Linked DNA regions of Homo sapiens: region 2 is linked to region 1. A link means that fine-mapping ties the variant in region 1 to the expression of a gene that starts in the linked region. Tissue or cell type: stomach. Region 1 holds a variant in brackets; the other region holds the start of a gene. All regions are shown on one strand. Distances are between the middles of the regions.

Region 1 (10,882 bases):
GTTATGAAGCCATTAATTCTACCTCAGCAGTTTCAACTGTCAGGTACATGTAACAATAATTGCACTTAATGAATGCTGCTCAATTTATTAAGTACAAAATGAAAACCAGTATTCTTTTATATGCAGCACTGAGGCACATTATTTATCATTTGTGTATACCATGTTGAATATTCTACTATCATTTATTGGTCAGGGTATATAGCCATAGTTTTTCTAAAGCTTCTTTTTATTAAAAAACAATGCAGGAAATTGTAACACTCTAATTAAAGAATAATTAAAATAATTAGTACCAAAACAAATATTTAATAAGAATCTATGTCTATGGAAAGCAATCCAGCAAAACCAAGATCAAGTTCCTGCTTTAGATAAACAAGATTCTTTCTGTGGCTACCCTCCCCTCCCCAAATCTTTACTAGAATATGAAAAAATTCAAAAGCTTCCAGTTGCTTGAAATATCAGTGTTGTTTCTTTCTCAAAGTTTTTGGCAGTAAAACTTTTGTGTACAGACATACAGCCTGCCTCAGAATTTTCAAAAGTAAGAGCTAGATTTCTTATTTTCAATCACTCAAGGTAAACTGCATAGACATTTGCAAGAGCGAAGAGAGAAGAATTTCTGAAAACATAAGATGAAAAGGTATCACTTTTAGGATCCCAGAGGCATCTGCTTCCAATAAGTATGCTCTGCCTGTTCAGTTGTCCAATGTGAACAATCACAATTAGTTTATACCGTGGAATCATCAAGTCCTTGACCTGGGCTTTAATAACCTAGAAATTTAAAAAAAGGGAGGGTCTTCATTCAGCTACATTGAAACTCAAAAGCATTAACCTTTGTTATAAATATAAGGGATTTAATTTAATAGCATGATGCATTGTAGATACTTTCAGTGATTGTTTTAGAACCGTAAGTATGATTCCCTTCAAGCATGGTCCCCTTGAGATAGAACATTCAGGAACAAAATTTTAACACCAGCAATAAATCAACCTTTTCTAAGATACATGAAATAATTATAATCCAGAACACAGAATTTAATAAATTACATTCTTTGAAAATTTATGTTAAGATGGCTTCATGTCAAAGAATGTTGGCATTGGAGTTACACTGTCTTGTTCATGTCTAATTAAGAAACCATACATCTGGAGTCTCCTGTAATATAACTAATCATTAATGTTTATTAAAGAGTTTGTTATCAAAAAGAAAGTAGAGGAAACCTTGATGAAGTGCAGCCCTGGGGTTTGTAAAAATAGAAATGTGCTTGAAGACCACAATGTCTGTATTTGATGGCACTCAAAGAAGCTGCCTTAGTGAAGAGAAAATAATCATTAAAATGTTGTATCTTTTACAATAAACACTTTTATAAATGGGGCAGTTTTATACACTTTTACATAATGCATGCAAATGATGCTCATGATTGTTTTAGACAAAGGCTTTATGTATATACACACACACACACACACCCACACACACACATATATGTAGAATATGACCTAATTATAAATACGCATTTTAACTGTTACTGCAAATTAATTCCCCTCATCAAAAAAGTAGAGGGTCCGTTGTACTTTAGCAAATATTCTAGCTATTGTTAACACTTTGGGCAAATCACACACGTACCTCAGAAATGGTTTTAGTCATCTGTCTACAGAGCTCTGGTTCATATTCTTCTACTTGTAGATAGCTGGTTACTACATCTTTCAAAATATGATTGACGGTGACCACAGGAAAATGTTTGGGAGGACCTGAAAATACACATAAAATTTATTTCTAAAAAGTAATTTCAAATCACACCCACCCACCCCATAGGCTAATCAAAAGAGTATGGAAACATGGAGGGATTTAATCTTCTGGGTGGACTCTATTGAAAGAAACAAGTGGCTCTAATTAGGTTTCCTGTCAAGTGCTCTGAGAGAGAACAAGAAGACAATATTTTCGTACATTTACGTGACTATCTCAAAAGTGTGTTCAATACTGCTGGGGTTTGACCTTGAAAGTCTCTTCCTTCCCAGGCCCCATTGTTGTGGACATACTTCAAAGTCTCAACAACTTTATAACTGGCTCTCTACCTCTTATATCTCCCGCTCCAATCTATCTACCAGATCTTAAATGACATTCCCCTTAGCGAGGTCTAAAGTGTGATTCCCTACTGCCCCTTCTCCCGCTACCACAGTGCCCCTCTTGTGGACTGCTCCAGCCTCACAGGCTCCATCTGTCTATAAAGGTGCTCCTGTGTCCTTACTCTTGCTCTTTAGTTTTCAAATGGAATATCTTTCCCCATCTTGTTCATCTGAGAAACAGCCACTCATGTTTCAAGACCATCTCAAATGTCTTCTTCTCCAGGTAGCACTCTACCTCCTCTCAGGTAAAAATGTCCCTCCTTTCCATGCACTGGGTCCCCACTGCCATCCTGGCTCCTAATCCACTTGATATTGGCTAAAGCATACCTGCGTTTCCAGTGAAATGGTAAGCAAGCTCGGATTTTATCCTCCTCAGAGTCTAATACAATGCTAAAGGCATAAGAAATTTTTAATGTATGATTTCTGAATTTAAATAGAATTAAATTTTATAGATAATCATTATATATGATATATGACTGTATATTGTATACATATATAATAATGAATACTTTTTATTAAGCCGTTGCTACATGTCAGGCAGTGCGATAAGCACTTCATATTACCTTATATAGTCTTCCAATAGATCTCTGAGGTGAATCTCACTGTTATCTCCATTTGGCAGGTGGGGAAACAGAGATTTATATACATTGAGTAACCTGCCCAGAATCACACAGAGAGGCAGAGCTGGGGTGCACACCCAGGTTTATCTGATGCTAGAGCTTATATTCTCGACCACATTTCATCCACGTTCAGAGGAGAAGCTTCAAATGAATCTTCTTCCTCCTGCATCCCAGGAATATTAGCCATATCATCACTTTGGTCATATACTAATGTCATTGCATGACATGAACATGTGCCCAGGGCCTGGCATACAGAAGCCCAGTCATTATTTGTTGAATTGATAAAGATGAAGGAATGAGATCAAGAATTCTATTCAATTCTCTTTTAATATATGTCAATATCTAGTAATAAGTGTTTGTTTGTGATGACTGTATCTGTCAGGGTCAAATGAAACATATGGCACCCTATAGTTAAAATAATTCCAGGAGGAAGTTCTGAGTGGGCTGTAGAAAATCACAAGGGATAGTGCAGCACCCCTCAGCCAGTGAAAGTAAGGTTGTCAGCCCACCCCTCCCACCCCAAGATTGGGGAATAGAGGAAGAGCTTTTAATAGATCCCAGAAGGGTCATGTGGAGAGGGCTCCCTTGGGAGCAGTTTCTGTCCTTTGGTTGAAGAATGTAACCAGGCTGTGATGAACTCACAGGCAGGAGCCAGGGAAATAAACAGCTCCACCTCACACTTCTCACTCCCTCTGCCTCTCAGCTGAGGTTTCCCACTGGCTGAACTTAACCAGAAGGTTACAGCCTCTGACTGCAGTTCAGTTAGGTGAGCCTCTTGAGGTTCTATAAATCGTTATTTTTATTTTGATGATAATATAGAAATTGTTGAATTCCACTTAAATCGTGGAAGGGTGGGGGTGGAGATTGAATCTAGAAAGTGGTTCTTAAAGATCTCCCCATCATCTCCTGCGAACCCAAGCCTAGGGCATGGTTGATTAACCCAGGGTGACAATGCTCTAGGCCAGGACAATGAGAGTCTTTTTTTGGAATTTTTATTTTAAACTGCAAGTAGGAAAAAAGAGTCAGCCTCTTTCTGGTGGCAAAAGTTACCATGTGACTCTGAGGACCTGCTGGAGGACATGTTTTTCATGGTGGTAAGGAGGCCAGGCCACCAAAAGAGAAGAAAGTGCACATAGGTTAGTGCTGGAAAGAGGGTCCTGGTGGCACTTGAGTCTGTTTCCAGTAGTTC[C/T]CGTTGTACAGTGCTACCAATGTCCTTTCCATACTTCGCTTAGATTAAAAAAAAAGTCATTAACCAGATCCTGTTTTGAAAATACTTTGAAATATGGTAATGAAGTATTCTTTTCTTACTTCTTTGTTACCTTTCCCCTAAACATCCAGAATCATCCATCAATGTTCAGTTTCTGACTTCTGAAATAAGCTCCTAAAACTAGTTTCAGAGTAAACTGATGTGAATGGCAAAGCTTTTCTTCTTTCTCGAGATTTTTTTTTTCCTTAGGAGAAAAAACGTGTTTTAGAAATCAAAAGGCAAAGACCTGAAGGATCAAGACAAAAAAAATTTTAAAAACAAACAAAACTTGTCCTTAAAAAGTAGATAAAGATAAGTTTACTTAATGTATGTGGGCCTCCACTACCCCACATTGGGGTAATAATAATAATTACTACATTTTTTTTTGTTAGAATTAAATGAGACAATAAATTGAATATGTTTAGAACAGTGCTTGTCACACAATAAAACACTCCTTAGATATGTGATCTTATTAGTGTTATTGCTGTTATTGTAGTTATTGCATGCTGAAGGAAGAATTGGGGATTTACCTTGCTGAGAAGGCAGCAAGATGAAAGAGGACGTAAGTCTGGAGACAGTGAGGCCTGTGGGATTAGGAAGGACCCCATGTGGTGGTGTAAAATCAATGCTGAGAGATTGACAGGCTCTAAGAAAACCTGACATAGAGACAGGGCCTGAGCACTTCATGGAAGCTGAACTCAAATAATCTCTCTCTTTCTCTCTCAATATTTTGGATCTACTTTCTACTGTGCTGGCTTCATTCTCAAGGCAGGCTGTCTTGATGTGGTAGCAAAGATGGCCGCCAATCTAGTTTGGCTCGGTGCTCGCAGTCCATGTTTGCAAACAACCAGGTGCCACTATACTCAGTTCCAGAAAAAGTCCTGTGGAAAACTTATTCCATAATTAATATGAAGTTACAATGAATATCATGGAAGGCTTTTATTCTTAGTGATCTATAGTAAGGTCCTTGAGTCAGTCACTTTCAGGAGTAGTAACATGATGAATGGAGAGATTTAAACATATAACATCATTTGAGTCTCATAGCATCCATGTGATGTATAGACTATTATCCCTATTTACAAGTGAAGACACTGAGATTCAATGATGCTAAATACCTTGCTCAAGGAATTAGCAAAATTAGTATTCAAATTCAGATACGACAGATGCCACAGCCTGCATTTTCTTTTATATTTGTTTTAGTAATTAATGAGAAATATATAAATGGTATTTTATTAAAAGAAACACACTTTCCTTTTCTATTCCCTTTTCTCCTCTCATGAATGATACTCATGTTTCATCTCATTTTTTGTAGCTGTAATTATTTATGTAAATGCTCTCATTTAAGATGTGTTTAGATGAGGCAAACATTATTGAATGGAATGAAAAATTAATTAAACATAATAGTGCTGGTGATTGGCTGATATTTCCCTCTACTTTTCTGGCCAGTATTACATTGTAAAGATATGATAAACTATTTACCAAAGTCCCACTGATATAGTTTGGATATTTGTCCCCTTCAAATCTCATATTGAAATGTGATCCCCAGTGTTGGAGGTGGGGCCTGGTGGGAGGTGTTGGGGCCAGGAAGGTGGATCCCTCATGAATGGCTTGGTGCTGTCCCAGCGGTAATTACTGAGTTCTTGCTCTATAGTTCTTCCTCTATTAGTTCACATGAGAGCTGGGTGTTTAAAACAGCCTGGCACCTCTCTTGTTCCCTCTCTTGCCATGTGACATGCCAACTCTCCTTCCCTTCTGCCATGCCTAAAAGCTTACTGAGGTCTTACCAGAAGCAGATGTTGGCACCACGTTTCCTGTATAGTCTCTAGAACCATGAGCCAAATAAACCTGTTTTCTTTATAAATTACAGTCTCAGGTATTTCTTTATAGCAATGCAAAAACGGACTAATACACTCACAAAATACCTTTCATATGTGAAATAAACCCAGAAACAAGTAGAAGTGGAAACACAGTTTTGATTAAGTATTAATAAAATGGCTGGTTGAATGCTATAAAAAGGGAATTGTCAAGCATAAAATATTTTAATTATTAAAAAATTCACATAGACTATTGTAGGAAAATACAGGTATATTTCATCTATACTAAGCTTTTTCTAAAATTACTTTTCTAATGTGGTTCATACTCAGTACTTCTAAAACTGATAAGATGCTTTATTTGAGAAAACAAGTTGCAAAAAATATCCTTATGTAGAAACACAGAGATTCACATTTCACTGGCCCTGTCTTGTTCAAATCTGATTCAAACCCTTCCAGCATGCACAGTTCAAAGTCATAGACACCCCATGGCTAAGAACTTTTAGTTGCAAGTGAGGGAAAACCTGACCCAAACTTAGCTTGCCTAACTGAAAAGTTAAAGGGTAGCCAATTGGATTTAGGACTCAAATGATGACACCAGGATTCTGTTGTTTTCTCTCAGTTTCAAGTCAGGGCAAGGTGGCAGATCCTGCCAGAGCCCCTACATTCCTTCAAGTTTCAGGGCTTTATGTTCTTCTGCAACAGGCCAAACAACATTTTCTGAATTTAATCTCAAAGTCTTTGATTGGATTCACCATGGTTATATGCCATCCTAGAATCAGTCACTGCTCTATCTATAAAGCCAGTGCCAGCTTCATTAGAATGCTAGGATCAAAAGTGGTGATGTTGGTGGAATTTCAAAGGAAATTTAGTGAGGTTACCAGAGAAGTATAAAAGTATATTGGATGGCAGGAATATTAGCTGTCCACCACAGGCACTGTGAAAATACCAGTAGATTGGCTAATTATGGAGCCGTGTAATCCATGTAGTCTTGGGGACTCCTGTAGAAAACTGGCTACAAGGCCAGAGGGGACAGGCTGATGGTCTATAATTTTCTTGGGGTTAACTGGCCACAGATGGAATCACCTTGGCCCATAGAGTCTTTCTTTGCCCCTTGGTAAATCTCTGTGGAATTTCCATATAGCAGTAATTATGTATGAATTCAGGTAATAGTGGGCAGGTACGCTTTTAGAGAAAACAAGTGGGTCTATGAGGAAACATGGATGGGAAAAGATATTTGCCACGGACTCCACCTGGGAGTATAGCGGCAGGTGCAAAGATCTTTGTTTTCAAAGACTCAAAACCTCAGTGGTAATGGATAAACGTCTCTGTCAACAGGGGACTATGAGTCATTTGCCTTTGCTTTGAGTTTTTTTTTTTCCTTCACCTAACAACACTGATTGGTTTTGTTGGATAAAATATCAATACTTATCTCTTTCATTTAAGTCATATCTATGTACCCAGAAATACTCAGTGAATTTGTTAAGTCAGTAGTATACTGTATGCATCAGTGCCACCCAGTGAATTGTTTGGCATTTGGGAAACATTAGTAAAGAAAAGTAAGACAGCAAGTGTTGTTACCTTTTTGCTGAGGAAGAAACTAAAGCAACATCAAATCACTCAATTCATTAAAGTCCCTTATATTGTGCTAGAATTGAAGACAATGCCAGGTTATCAAATATCATTTTTAAGAGAATCAGTCACCAATTTAGAAGTTTAAAATAGGAGTGAGAGATAAAAGAACACACCCAACTGATAGGTGTTTTCCATCTGAACTGTAAGGCGAGAGATATCATCACGCTGACTGGGTTCTTCCATATAAGACACAGTACTCATAGAACTAAAAACAAGGGAGAAAACAAATTTTAGTCATTATTATAACAATAATAACAAAATACAATATTGCTTTAAGCTAAAATGTTACAAAGATGAAGTTTTCTCAGAAAATTTCAAGTAAGTCTTATGTAAATATCCTAGTGGCATATTGAAAGTCCAAAACATTTTAGAGATGGAAATATTAAGATGCAGAGGAATTATTTGGAGCAGGTCTCAATGTGATGGCTGAAGCCCAGGGCAGTTACCCAGGTCATCAAATTATCCAGAAAGCGATCCTGGGTTGATGTATGTGTATGGGGTAACAGTACATACTTCAAAATCCATTGCCAATCGCATCTCCACCACTGATATAAAGCCTCTCCTCAAAGTAGATAAAGCTCACAAACAGGGCTGGGGGACATATGAGGAAGCTTAAAATGTTGGAAGACAACTCTATATACACATGGAGTATTATAAAGAGTTCACTATTATATGTAGTTCACAAAATCCCTTTAGTATGAAAAAGAAAAATGAGAAACTCATCTACGTGGTAGAGGAAACCGCAATTCACCAAAACTATAATACATTAATAAGCATCAATCGGCCTTTTCAACATCGAAAAAGGGTTTTGGTTTCGTTATCAAGGCAATATGAGCTTATCCTGGTGCTAAACAGGAGACCCAAGCAAAGAGGAGGCCCCACTGTCTCTCCAGCACTACTTAATTCAACTTAGTTCAGAGGAAATTCAGCTGTAACTAATGACAGTCTCAGAATGCTGCACCCTCAATTTTCTCCACCTGTGAAAATGAACTTTAAGACAGATGTCATTTCAAAGGGGAGGATATAATAGCATGTGTGTGTGTGTGGGTGTGTGTTTGTGTGTGTGTGTGTTCAGAGTGACCACTTTTCTAAGCAGGCTATGTTTTTGCTTTAATTAAATAAAAAATAGATATTTGCTCTTAATCTTTGGGGATCTTTTTTCTTGCAAGGAATTTAAAATACTTAGTTCTACGCTGTTTGGAATTAATGAACTTCTTGCAAATCGATATTTTAAGAAAATCACGGGTAATCTATTTTTAAAAATCCTTTAATGCAATACAACTTACATGATAAATTAGGGTTTACCCACTCAGCCCAAGAAAATGATGGAAGAAATTCTGGCTGCTTTTTTCATGGTGGATTTCTGGATGAGTGACTTAATCTTTATTCTTATAACACCTGCCTTCCTCAATTTACTGCTGCCCTTTGAAGTAGCAACCAGCCTGTTTGGCCACACTGGCTGCAGGTGTTGTGGGCAATACCAAAGATGATTACTGCTGCTTAAAAAACCCAATGTTACATAAACCCCTTGATTCTAAGATAAGTCAGTCTGCTCCATTACTATATATGCTACTTTTAACTTTGTAAAACATTTCCCATAAATTATCTCATTTTACTTTCACAATATCCTTTGAGGTAAGTAAAAGATTCATTATTCTACCCATTTCAGAGATAAAGGGAATGAGGCAAAGGGCTTAATGTACATGTATAAAAGGCAGACAGATTTCAAATGTCCTGTTTACCTCTTAGTGACAAAGTCCCAAGTATGATTATAACAGACAGAATGAAAATAGGGACAATGAAATAATTAATCACTGCAATTAAAACTTACTTGCATAATACAGAAGGTATTCATAAAAACTCAATTTCTTTTCTACTGAACACCATATTAAAAATTCATGGAGAAGAAGAGGTGGTACAAAACTCAAATTAGCTGGAGTGAAAATTCCAAGACAAAAAAGCAAATAAGGATTTTTATAAACTGTCTTCACTATCAGTTACTGAAGATTGACAATCAGTGCACTTAATATTATTATCATTATGAAACTGGTAAATGTCATAAGGGCAGCTTAAAAATCCCACTGGTTGAAGATTGGTGTGCAAATAGAAAGTTTTGCAGATTGACTTTTTTTGAGTTATTGTAGATAAATTTGTTCAGTGCCCTTTTATTTCCATAGGAATCATATAAACAGTGTATGCTCATTTTACAAATTCAAAACATACAGAAAAACATAGAGAAGAAAGTAAAATTACAAAAAATTATTAACCTCAGTTGTTCTCTAACCCCTGTTAACATTAACAAAAATCATTTCAGACATTTGATTTTACATATGGGCTCATATTATAGATGCTTTAAAAAAATTTAAAATGTATCATGGATAACTTTCCATGTCAATAAATAGCAAACAATACTTTAAATATCAAGACAGTACTTAATACATACACATTCTGGATTTCATTTAACCATGTATCATCCATGCCTTTTAGGCTATTTCCAATATTCTACTATTATAAAGAAAATTATAATGAACATCGTGTCAGGGACTCTTATTTACTTTCTAAAGTTGTTCTTTCCTTCTTCCTTGGTAACAGAATCCTACATTTGTAGGAATATTCCTGTGCAGACTAAAGACAAATTCTCAGTCTCTTTTTGTGCTATTGTGGCCTATGTGGCTTATGAGTGAATGAGATGTAAGTGGAACTGTTGTGTGGAAATTCTGAGAGGTTCCTCAAAAGAACTAATGCAGCCTATAGGAGCCTGTTTTGACCCTTCTTTGTGACTGGAATGTGGATATTCCAGAGCTCAGCACTATCTTGGGTCTTGAGGTGACCTTGCAGATTACAGATAAGAAAGAAGCCTCTGAACTTCCTCTCTTCAGACTTATTTTATGTAAGAGAAAAATAAATTTCTATTTTGTTTAAACTAATGTTTATTATTATATGCAGCAGTAGATCTGATAGAAAGTCTAACTAATGCAGAGTTTGCTACCTGGAAGTGGGATGCTACAAGTAATCAATAAATCATAAAACTTGGGGCTGGCAGTGGTGGCTCACGCCTGTAATCCCAGCACTTTGGGAGGCCGAAGTGGGCAGACCACTTGAGGCCAGGAGTTCAAGACCAGCCTAGGTAACATGGCAAAACCCCATCTCTACTAAAATATATTTTAAAAAATTAGCTGGGCATGGTGGCACATACCTGAGATCCCAGCTACTTGGGAGGCTGAGGCACAAGCACAGCTCGAAAGGAAGGTAGAGGTTGCAGTGAGCTGAGATCATGCCATTGCACTCTAGCCTGGGCAACAGAGCAAGACTCTGTCTCAAAAAACAAAACAAAACAAAAACCAGTAAAAACCCATAAAACTTGGAATTAGTTTTAGAGAGGAACTGGGGCTTTGAGGAGTAAATTTTCTATATTTTGCTGGAAACCTGGTAATTTTTTTTTTTTAAACTATTATTTT
Region 2 (10,882 bases), 20 kb after region 1:
AAGCCCATTTTTGCTGCTTGTTAATTCTGTAGCTTTGGAGCCTCAATCTCTCTAAGCTTCTGCTTCTTCATTTGTCGAATGGGGGAGATAATAACATCTATCTTTATAGAGCAGGAGTTGGCAAACATTTCTGTAAAAGGCCAAATAGCAGATATTTTTGGATTTGCAGGCCCTACGGTTTCTATTGTAACTACTCAACTCTGCTGTTACAGTGCGAAAGTGGCCAGAGACAACGCACAAGTGAATAGGAATGGCTGTGTCCTAATAAACTTTATGCATATAGAGATTTGAATTTCTTGTTATTTTTACATGCTGCAAAAAAAACTGTTCCCCTTTTGATTTTTTTCACCTATGTAAAAATCGTATTTAGCAAAACAGATGCAGATTGGAATAGGCCCTTGGGTCATAGTTTGCCAACTCCTATTATGGAGCTTCTATGATACATAAATAAGGTTCATCGCAAGGGCCCTATAAATGTTAGCTATTATCATCCTTATTATTATAAATTGTTCAGGTAAAAAATAATTTGAAATTACAGATGGAGTATGATGACCACTGTGTAGTGTACTGTCTGGACTCAGACAGCATGGGTCTGATATATGTATGTCCAGGTCTAACAGAAATATGCCAACACACTAACAGTTAGGATAATAAGATCCAGCTTAAGATGTTTCTGTTTTTTCTTTAATAAAACATAAAAATTACATTAAATTGAAAAGATAACTTAAAAACAGACCCAATCTTGAAAACAGTTCACAATAATATTTAATATAAATTTAATCTTCTTTTTGTAATTCAGAAGGCATTTCAGATATTTATTCTGTCTGGGGATCATTGTTAAGCATTAGTTACAACTGTGGAAGACTGTAGACATGGAAACCAAGACTGTAGGGCTAAATCTGTGCTGATCTTATACCACATATAAGAAGCAGCTTTTCAAGGAGGTCTACCTTTACTCTTCATGTCCTCCTTATAAGTGTGGTTACCGCTAAAAAGACAAATAAGTCCATAGTCTGTTGAAAGAGATAGACAAGCAAATCACCAAATATAGTGCATATCGAAGGCAAAAGCAGTAGGAGAAGAAAGGCAGATCATCCAATGCAGTCTGGAGGTAAAGGTGGTCATAGATGAGTAATTAGAGAGCACTTCCCAAAAAGGTGGAGATGGAGCGAAATTCTGATGGAAGAAGTGAAGAAAGCCAGGGGAATAGTGTAAGAAGAGCATTGCAGGCAAGGAGTCGGGGTACCCCATGGGGAAGCAACATGGGGCAATGGCTGGGGGCCAGATAGAGCACTGAGGAATAACTGAGTATAGCTGGAGGGGATGATGCCCGCAAGATGGTGGGGAAGATGGTGCTATGGAAGTAGATAGGGGTCTGTGGACTTTGTATCTCATAGTCAGGATTTGGGACTGTATCCTAATCATTAAGTCAAATTACTTGACCTGTAAACTTTAGTTATTTCATAGTAAAGTGGTAGAAATGATGCCTACCTAGTAGGATTAATGCGGGGGAGATTCAGTGAGATAATGTATTCAGTCCTTAATAAACTTCAGAATGTTTTACATTATTGAAATTTATATTTTCAAAATTGTTTTAAAGTAATTTTCAAATGAAAGTTATATGTTTTTCCATAAAACACTGCAATTTCAAAACAATGCCTGTATTTGATAGTCACTAAGCTTTCAGAATTTTTCTACTAGTTGAAGCCTCATTCATGAAGGAGAATAACTTGTACTGTCTAATTCCAGACAGTGAGGAAGCCAATGGAAAGCAAGTATTAATACAAGTTAGCATGGGGTGGGGGAGCCTCCTAAATAGTCTGCATTGCAAGGGGACTTGGAAGCTGATCATTTGCTATTTAAGAAAAAAAGTACAAATAGAGGTTCCATTCTAAATGTTTTGTTTGGGAGTCCAAAACCAAAATAGTTATCATTTAAATGTAGTTGTCAGTGAAAAATCTATCCTAATGTGTTGATAAATATGATTTTTGTATTCTTATTTTTAATATGTATTTATATTCATCAATAATAGGTTAAAAAGAGTGATCTCTAATTCTTCAAATGTAGCCACACTCTGATTCTATATGACAAATTTGTTTTGAAGGGGAAAAGATAAGTAAAAGTCATGCAAATAGGAATTACAATTTAATCTTTGGAGACAGTATTTAAAAAAATATCATGGGTACGTAATTTATGTCAGACTATTACTTAAATAGTTTCTTGGAAAACGTAAGTTGAATTTAAGCCAACAATCAGTTTTAAATAATTTAAAAAATAACCCTTGCACTTAACTATTGGAAATAGCAGCCAGAAAAGTTTAGAAGCAAAAATTACAAAGATTAATCATTCTCCCACCTTTACTTCTGACATGTGCTGGGATTGCTACTCCTTTATAGTCAGTTTCCCACCTGTAAAAGGCATTGTATGTGTAATCCACAGACTTCCAGGGCTGGAATGTGGAGTTGCAAGTAGGCATTAATACACTCTGAGAATAGAAAGATTTTGGTTTCAGAATTCTAATTATTCCAGTTCTTCTACTCTCTGTTCTGCAGGACACCCTAGCTCCTGCTTCCCAATATATACTCAATATACAACATCCTCCAAAGCTATAGAAACTAAGAACGAAAGTCTATTATTAATTGACTGCTACGTCGATAATTTGTTTTGTTTTCTTCCCAACAGCAGTCAAAAGGAAATGCCATGAAAATATTAAAAATTGATGTATATCTTTAGGAGAGAAGATGCAACATGTAGCAAGAACCAAAAAATCTACTTATTGCCCTTTGACCTACTAATTATTCTTCTGGGAAATGACCAAGCACAGACATATAGTAAAAAAGAAAAAAAATGGAAACAAACTTAAAGTGTCCAATAATTAGAGAATGGTTAAGGAACCCAGAATCATAAATTGACAAAATATTATGCAGTCATTTAAGAGGATATGGAAAAAACTATGAAAATACATGACAAAATTATATACAATAATGTTAAGTACATTGTATATGTATGTATTGATTACAAAAATGCAAAACCTATGTTATAAAATATTGAGGAGAAGAACTCAAAAGACATATAAGCGTGTCTGGTTTACATTGCATGTGGTGTTTCTTTTGAGCAGAGGGTTTTTTGGGATGATTTTTGAAATAGCAAAAATGCTGCTAGGATTAACTTATCACTTAAGCTTTCTCTCTTTCTCTTTCTTTTTAAATATGGCCCCTAAAGATGACCTGCACCTTGTACTTGCCCATTTTATCTCTTTTTATGTCCCCGAGGAAGTGTTTTTTTCTCCTAATAAACATTACGAACCTATTTATTCAATAAATGAATTTACAATTTTAGACAGTTACTCACTCTTTGATGCGCCCATGAATTTCCTTTCGCCAAAATTCATGATTACTTAGAGAAGAAATACTCCCTCTTTTCTTCCATGAATGAGCTGCTCTGCCTTTAGCATTGTCTGACATCATCATAACCTATGGAAGAAGACTTTTGTAAAATAGCAAAAGAAAGATCCGGAAACATTTTAGTTAGTATAACAGGGACTAATCTCAAAGTACACAGATAGTTTTCCTACCATTTTTGAACAGGAAAGTGGGGTTTCCTCAAGAGCAATATATAGAATTTGTTGTTATTCTGATCAGTGAAACTGGAACTATGATAACTCTGAAAATGCTTATTTATGCAATAGTATAATTATTTACATAAGCAGATATTAAGCTATAGCAAAAATGCTTAGCTGATGAAGACGGAGGTCATTGACAAAAGATATGCATGTATAGCAGAAAGATGCTATCCTACATCAGAAACCAATATTTGTATTGCCCCCCAAATGTAACCATAATACAACTTTGCTAATTAATATTTGCTGTCACTGTTATATTTTATTTTTGAGACAGGGTCTTGTTCTGTCACCCAGGTTGGAGTGCAGTGGCATGATCATGGCTCACTACTGCCCCAAACACCTGGGCTCAAGCGTTCCTCCCAACTCAGCCACCTGAGTAGCTGGGACTGCAGGTGTATGCCATCAAGCTGGGCTAATTTTTAATTTTTTGTAGAGATAGGGTCTATGTTGCCCAGGCTGGTCTTGAACTCCTGGGATCAAGCAATCCTGCTTCAGCCTCCCAAAGTGCTGGGATTACAGGCATGAGCCACTCTACCTGGCCTATTTTATTATTTTAGAGACAGGATCTAGCTCTTGTTACCCAGGCTGGAGTGCAGTGGCATGATCATAGCTCACCGTAACTTCAAACTCCTGGGCTCAAGCGGTCCACCCACCTCAGCCTCCCTAGTAGCTAGGACTACAGGCCTGCACCACCATGCCTAGCTAATTTTTAAACATTTTTGTAGAGACAAGATCTTTCTGTGTTGCCCAGGCTGGCCTTAATCTCCTGGCCTTAAGTGATCCTCCTGCCTTGGCCTCCCAAAGTGCTGGAATTACAGGCATCAACCACTGTGCCTGACCCACCATGACTTTAAAAAATAAAATTAGGGGTAGGGAGCTAGAAAATAAATAAATAAATAAAAATTAAAATTAACCTTGCTTTCCCAAAGATTTTTTGTTGTTTGTTTTGTTTTCTCGAGCAACATTTACATAGTTTGTAAAGAGCAAATAGGACTTAACTTTTAAATAAATAATTTATTGGAAAACTCCCTCCTTCCTACTAATACTTGTTAAAAAGCTGGTAGTAGCAATGGACTTCCCAGAACTTGGACTATAACTCTAATAATGCCCTCATTGTCTACCTACAAATTTAAGTATTCATTTAAATTATTTCATAATCTATAAATGTGAGAGCCCCGATAAGGAAATACTGTGCTAGACACCAAAGCATAAAAATAGAAGAGAATCCATGCCTTCAAGGAGCTGGCAGTTGAGTAGGTAGGGCACACAAGAACATACCCTAAAACCCAGTGGCATCAATGTCAGAGCAGAGGTGCTGTGTGTGGGTGAGGCAGGCAGCGTGGTGTGTGTGTGCACGTGAGTGTGAGCGTCCTTGAGTGTGTACCTGTGAGTGTGCATCTCTGTGTGTGCAGGTGCCTGTGTGTATAAGTGTGTCTGTGTTCGTGTGTACGAAGGTGAGTGTGTTTATGAGTGTGGAAAGACACACAGCCTGATTAGGTGGGTCATTCAGGTTTTGCTGCAAAGCCACATAGACCCATCTCGGCCTCAGCTGTTTCCAAAGCTGCCCTGCAGGCCGCCCCCTCCCCAAGAAAGGCCAGAGTTGGGACCTGGAGGTCCTCATGGGTGCGGCCAGCCACAGGAAGACCGCCCCGGGTCAGGGGATGACCTTGCTGGCCGGCTCTGCGTTGGCCATCACTCTTGAAGCCCAGCCCCCAGCCATGCAATGGGGCAGGGGACGAACCGTTGGGACCGACTTTCAGTTCCCAAATTTGGGATCATTTTTTCTTATGTGTTGGGGAGAGGAGGAATAAGGTGGCGGAGAGATCGGGGCCAAGTAGGGCCATTTCTCAACAAAGGGCCGATCCCTTGCCCCCTATCCTTCCTTTGGGGTCCAGACGCGCTGCAGAGAGAGGCGACCCTACCTGCAGCAGGGAGGCTTCGCCCGGAGCCTCCCAGACCTCCGGCACTGCAGACACTGCGCGCGGCGCGGCTCCCGCGTCCCAGGCTTCATTCAGCCGGCGGCCGCCCGCGCACTCTCCCTGGACTCTGAGGCCGGTCTCCAGGGTGACCTCAAACAGAGCCCTCGGCCCTCCCCGGCCGGACTTGGCCGCTGAGTGGCCCTCTGAGCTGCCCTAAGGATGTAGAGGATCTCATCTTCACTGCCCACTGGGGGTCACTCTGAGCCGGGCTGCGTCCTGGGTTGGCGGCGAGCTGGAGGGGAACTGGTTCATTGTGTAGCGAGGAAGACATTTGGGACTAAAGACATTTGCACCCCTAGGGCCCCTCATCAAGTTCCTTTTCCCGCAGACATCAGGGGCAGGAGTGGGAAGTGCTGCGGTTTCCTAGCACAGGAAATCCGAAGCGCAAAGACAAAGTAAAGTAGCCCTGCCCTTTTCCCGGCTCCTAACGCTGCTTCGCACGTTCCCCCTCCAAGGCACAGGCGGTGGAATGTGGAGGTAAATGAGCACTTACATTGGCCAGATACCCCAGATACCGACAAACATTGGGATTTAGTCGTCCCAATAACTCTGTCAAGAAAGGAATGTTTTCCCTTTAAAGGATTTGGAAAATTGAGATTCTAAAATGTTAAATAATATGCCCAAGGCCCCTGAAACTCATGGTCTTAACTCCAATGTGTTACAAACCGGGCTGGGTTCCTTCGCTTTCCTTAACAAGACTCTTCTGAGCCTGTTAATGTCTAAGAAGCTTTGAAATGAGGCTGTTTGGGGTTGAGGACCTACCTGCTGGTATGAATGGGCTTTTCCTCTTCTTCAGCGACTATCCCCAGCCTAAGCCTGGTTTGGGCCTCCCCAAACCAAAAGCAAACAAAATAAACACTATAGGGACCCTCCTGTAGTGGGCAATCATTGGAAGCAGAAACAAGATGCCTCCAAGCATCTAGCCAAGGGCATGGCTCTTGATGAGTGTCCTGCTGGAATTAGCATTAGCTGACAGTAATACATTGGGATTCCGGTGGAGCACAGTGTTAGGATAGTGTTGGAAGAAGAGAAATAGATATTTTTGCCCATCCCAATCTCTACTCACAGAAAGATAAGAACAGGAAAGGATTGTTGATTGAATATCTACTATGGACTAGATAGGAACTGCTAGGTGATGAATAAACATTATCTCATTGAATTTGTTCAGTGACTATGACATAGGGGACATTACTCTATTTTTTTTTAAGATAAGGAAATGTAGAATCGTTGAGTAACATGCTCAAGTCGATATTTAAATCACAGAGCTGAAATTTGTCTAACTCTTAACCCTTGACCTTTGACAGACCTTTGGCCCACCATCCCTACCCTAAACATGGAATGAAGTTTTCCAGAAATGCGGGTAAAATTTTAAGAGGCTGACAGCAAAAGATATTCACAATTCAATTTATTTTCATATTTTTCATTTATTTTCCAGAAAAAGAAATCACATTTCAGTAACAACTTACATATAGAATTAAACTTTGTTCTGGAATGGGAGCCCTAGTTGCAGTAACGTGTCATAATAAATAATTGCATATTCAGGATTTTGTGAAATAGGTGATTGGGAAAATTATGAACAAAAAACATTTACAAAAATTATTATTTACAAAGAGTGATATCCATACTATTTCTAACTTATAAGGCAAGTAATGTTAAGATGGTCTCATGATTATCTTCAACAAGTCAATTACACACTTTCCTGTCACCATTGCCCAGCAGAGAGCTTTGCTGCAATTCTGTGAAGGAGCAAGTAAGTCTTCGCTTCCGTTGTTGGTTTTCTCTTGAGCACAGCATAGAAGCAGTAAAGCTTTCATTACAGACTAAGCAGTAATGGCTGTCAGAAAAAAGTATACTCTTTTGAAATAGACGTGTAGGAAAAAGGCTGGGAATCAACATTTTGACTAAATTTTGAAAGTATCTTGAGTATTTTAATTCACAGTTTTGTAAGTATTTTATGCCCAAGGTATTTTTGTGAAATTATGTACTTAGTACAAGATTAAAAAGAAATTTAGTGTATTTTTGCTACATAGATCAAAGAGAGCTCTAAATAAAGGCTACCACCAAATCAAATTACACACAGCATTTTCCTTAATTGACAGGATTTCATTACCTATAGAAACACAGCAAAATCTTTCTGAGATTCCTAGATTCTTGCATTGTTCAAGTTTAAAAAAAATCAATGCCTTACATGGCCACTTAGTAAGAATGAAAATTAATATCCGAGTATTTAATTCATATGATCTTTTACTATACAAGTGAAAAACAAACAAAAACTCTTTTTAATCGAAAACAATAGTGTTCAAACAGCTTAAAAAGCCAGCTGTATACATTACTGCTTGGCCTGTGGTGAAGCTCTGTTCATAGATAAGATTAATATATCATCATATCAACACTTGGCTTTTTCAAGAAAAATTATTCAGCAGCAATTTTCCAATTCCCCTTAGACAGAGAGGAAAGAGACACACACACACACACACACACACACACACACCCCCACACACACACAGAGAAAGAGAGAGAGAGAGAGAGAGAATATGAATTAGATAGGAGCCAATCTCTTTCATGTATGTCCATTTAACAAAGCAAGAACTAAATTCTGACCTGAAAAATCAACACAGCTATATGAATTATCATTCTAGCAACTTGAAAAGGGAAAAAAATCTGACTTTGGATCTTGGGACAGTGGTTCTTGTGATAGTTACTTGTTGTATGATTTAAAATACCTTAGAGTGATGGTGAATGAATAACATCAAGCATTTACTTTGCGAGAAAAAAAATTCATAAAAGTAATGTAAAACTGAATGAGCGAGATGGAATTAACATTTGTATGATATACTCATTCAATGGAACGTTTAAAAATTATAAATGGCTTATGATCTATCAGGCTGATTCACAAACTCTGGATGGATTAAAAACTGAACTATCTTTAGAGAAATGTAAAGTGATTCAGTTTGATTCTTTTCTATATGATAACAGACAATTTAACCAGGAAGTTTTTAAAGAAACTTCGTTAATTTGGTATAAAAGTAACTGATTGGCAAAGTAAAGCAAAGCAAAAAAAGAAAAAAAAACAGCAAAAAAAAAACCCTATGAAATGCTCATTAAAAGAGTATAGAATCTCACAAAATCTGTGCTAAACAGTGCACTGCTCTTAGCTTTCCCCAAAGTGTTTTTAATATAATTTCTGACAAGCTGATGTAAAAATACTGTCAACATTGATCTATCATGATTCAGTTTCCTAAAGCTGTTTAGTAAAACGTTACTGGAGATTATTCACTGGCATTAATTCCACACGGCAAAGAATTGGAAACATCTTCAACAGATAGGGGTCTGATATGCTGGTCATAGGTGCAAGCCTTAAAAATAATACAAAAATTAAAATAATTTTATTGTTTTGTTTTGAATATTTTAGATGATAAAGTTAAATTCACTAAGAGATACTAATGAAATTTAAAATAGATAACAATTCATTTGAAATGACAGGAATTCTCTTAAAATTAAAACAAAATTCCAGAAGCATTTTTTTCAAAGCATTCCTGGTTATTTTATTTACAATTATTGAAGGATATATAAACTAGTGTTAAAAGAAAACTTTTCCAAAGGTTTCTCAAGGTGTGCTTAGAAAAAATTTTTTTTACCTGATTCAATAACTTTCTTAAGCTTCATTAAAACACTAACATTTATTGTCAATGTCCAAGGAGAGAGAATTATAGTATAGGACCATTTGTTCTCAGACCACAATGAACATCTTCCAGAACACAATTTGTAAAATACTGGAATATTGGTGAGCATAGCCCAAATACACTTTACTTCTTTTCTTTAAAACATTACGGGACATTTAAAAATATATTTGTTTTTTGCCAAAACATTTTTTACAAGGATAAAGATGTATTTAAGGTAGGCAAGGTATTACTCTAGGGATAGAAGGAGGCAGTTAGAAATCAAAGGAAAAATAATTTTAGAAGTTAAACCTAGAGAATAAATTATTATACCCATGGTCAATGCCAACAAATAGGTGTCTTTTCCTCATAGACATACCCATTTAGGAGAGAAATCAGATATTAAATGTGAGGGCCAATCAAGAGGTTCACCATGGTCAACTCAACAGACTTTACATTTGACATTCCTTCATGAAATATATTTAGATCTTAATTAGATGTCAGCAGTGCAACTCTAGCTTGCAGAAGATGACAGAACATTGAAGCAATGACACAAGAGAAAGGCAAGTGTTTTGTTGTTGTTTTTAATATTTAGAGACTTAAGCAATGTACTCCTATCTCATTTTCCTTCCATACACTCCACTGACAAAAAGGAACATTAATGGTAGCCATATTTAATTCATAAGTGAGAGAATGGCATTTAGATACTGTTTTCCACATGAAAAAAAAGCCTAAAGGAGCAGGGAAAATACAATAAAACCTTAAGAGGAAAGTGCACACAGTAAAAGATGGTGAGGCTGGTCATCCAAATAGTCCCTTTAATCAATGTAACTTGGATTGATTTGTTCATTTATATCAACAATCTAATTTGACTCATTGCATGGACACATCATATTATATTAACTTTCAAAGCTATATTTAGAGATCACTCTTGTTTTGATATTATTAAATATAATGTAACACTTCCATTTTTTAAAAAAATTGCTGATCAGAAAACCATGTGGCAAAATGAGTACATTTAGACTGAATGGGATTTTGCTCAAATGTATAATCTTTTGGAAAAGGAAAAGCTTAAACACAGACACATACACACACACTCATCTGTTTAGTATGTATCTGCATATTCTACTGTATTGTTCAATTTAATTTACAGCCTGTGGTTATTTTGAGAAAAAATATTCGTGCAACTCTTTTAGAATGAGGCTACCACATGTTTGTAAAGTCAAAAGCTTACAAAATAAATAGGTTCAACTCACAAGTTAGAGATCTGAATGTCCCTTGCAAAGAAGGAAACATTGATTAGGATTTTGTATTTGAATAAATAACAGCTTGCAACTTCCCTTCTACTTCAAGTCTTTTAAGACATTGAAGAAAAGGACAGAAATATGAAAATGAGAAAATGCATTTCAGGCTACTTTGAGACTGAGATAGTATAACAGAGTAACTTTAAGAAAAAGATAGGGATTTTCCTAGGGAAAAAAATTTTTTAAGATTGGAGGAAATTAAGTGGACTGAATGAAAAATAAACTGACTAGAAAAATGGTTTTCATCTTAGAATTTAATGCTTAAAATCTGATATAATGTCAGAACTAAGAAGGACCTTAGAGATCTACTAGAGCAAT

Alleles and levels. Positions count from the first base shown, and alleles are read on the strand shown. Sizes are in standard deviations (SD) of each study's normalised expression.
As copies of C replace T in region 1, the expression in stomach of the gene that starts at base 5,670 in region 2 goes up (moderate effect, 0.64 SD a copy in GTEx).

The links. PIP is the estimated chance that this variant, and not a neighbour inherited with it, causes the effect.
Region 2: it holds the start of DYNLT5, and the variant in region 1 is the best candidate, but not a certain one, in a credible set for the expression of DYNLT5 in stomach (GTEx, PIP 0.57).

What each region holds. Positions count from the first base shown.
Region 1 is chr1:66,767,134-66,778,015 of GRCh38, reverse strand. DYNLT5 (dynein light chain Tctex-type family member 5) reads right to left here. Exons shown (of 5, transcript NM_152665.3): 3 at 7,538-7,629; 4 at 1,613-1,737; 5 at 1-765. The coding sequence ends at 562. Among named protein-coding and RNA genes, the nearest start is that of DYNLT5, 20 kb to the right of the region's middle. The variant C/T (reference allele first, on the strand shown) is at 3,922.
Region 2 is chr1:66,747,247-66,758,128 of GRCh38, reverse strand. DYNLT5 (dynein light chain Tctex-type family member 5) reads right to left here and starts at 5,670. Exons shown (of 5, transcript NM_152665.3): 1 at 5,545-5,670; 2 at 3,352-3,473. The coding sequence starts at 3,470. It overlaps SGIP1 (SH3GL interacting endocytic adaptor 1), which reads right to left. Exons shown (of 25, transcript NM_032291.4): 25 at 6,990-10,882.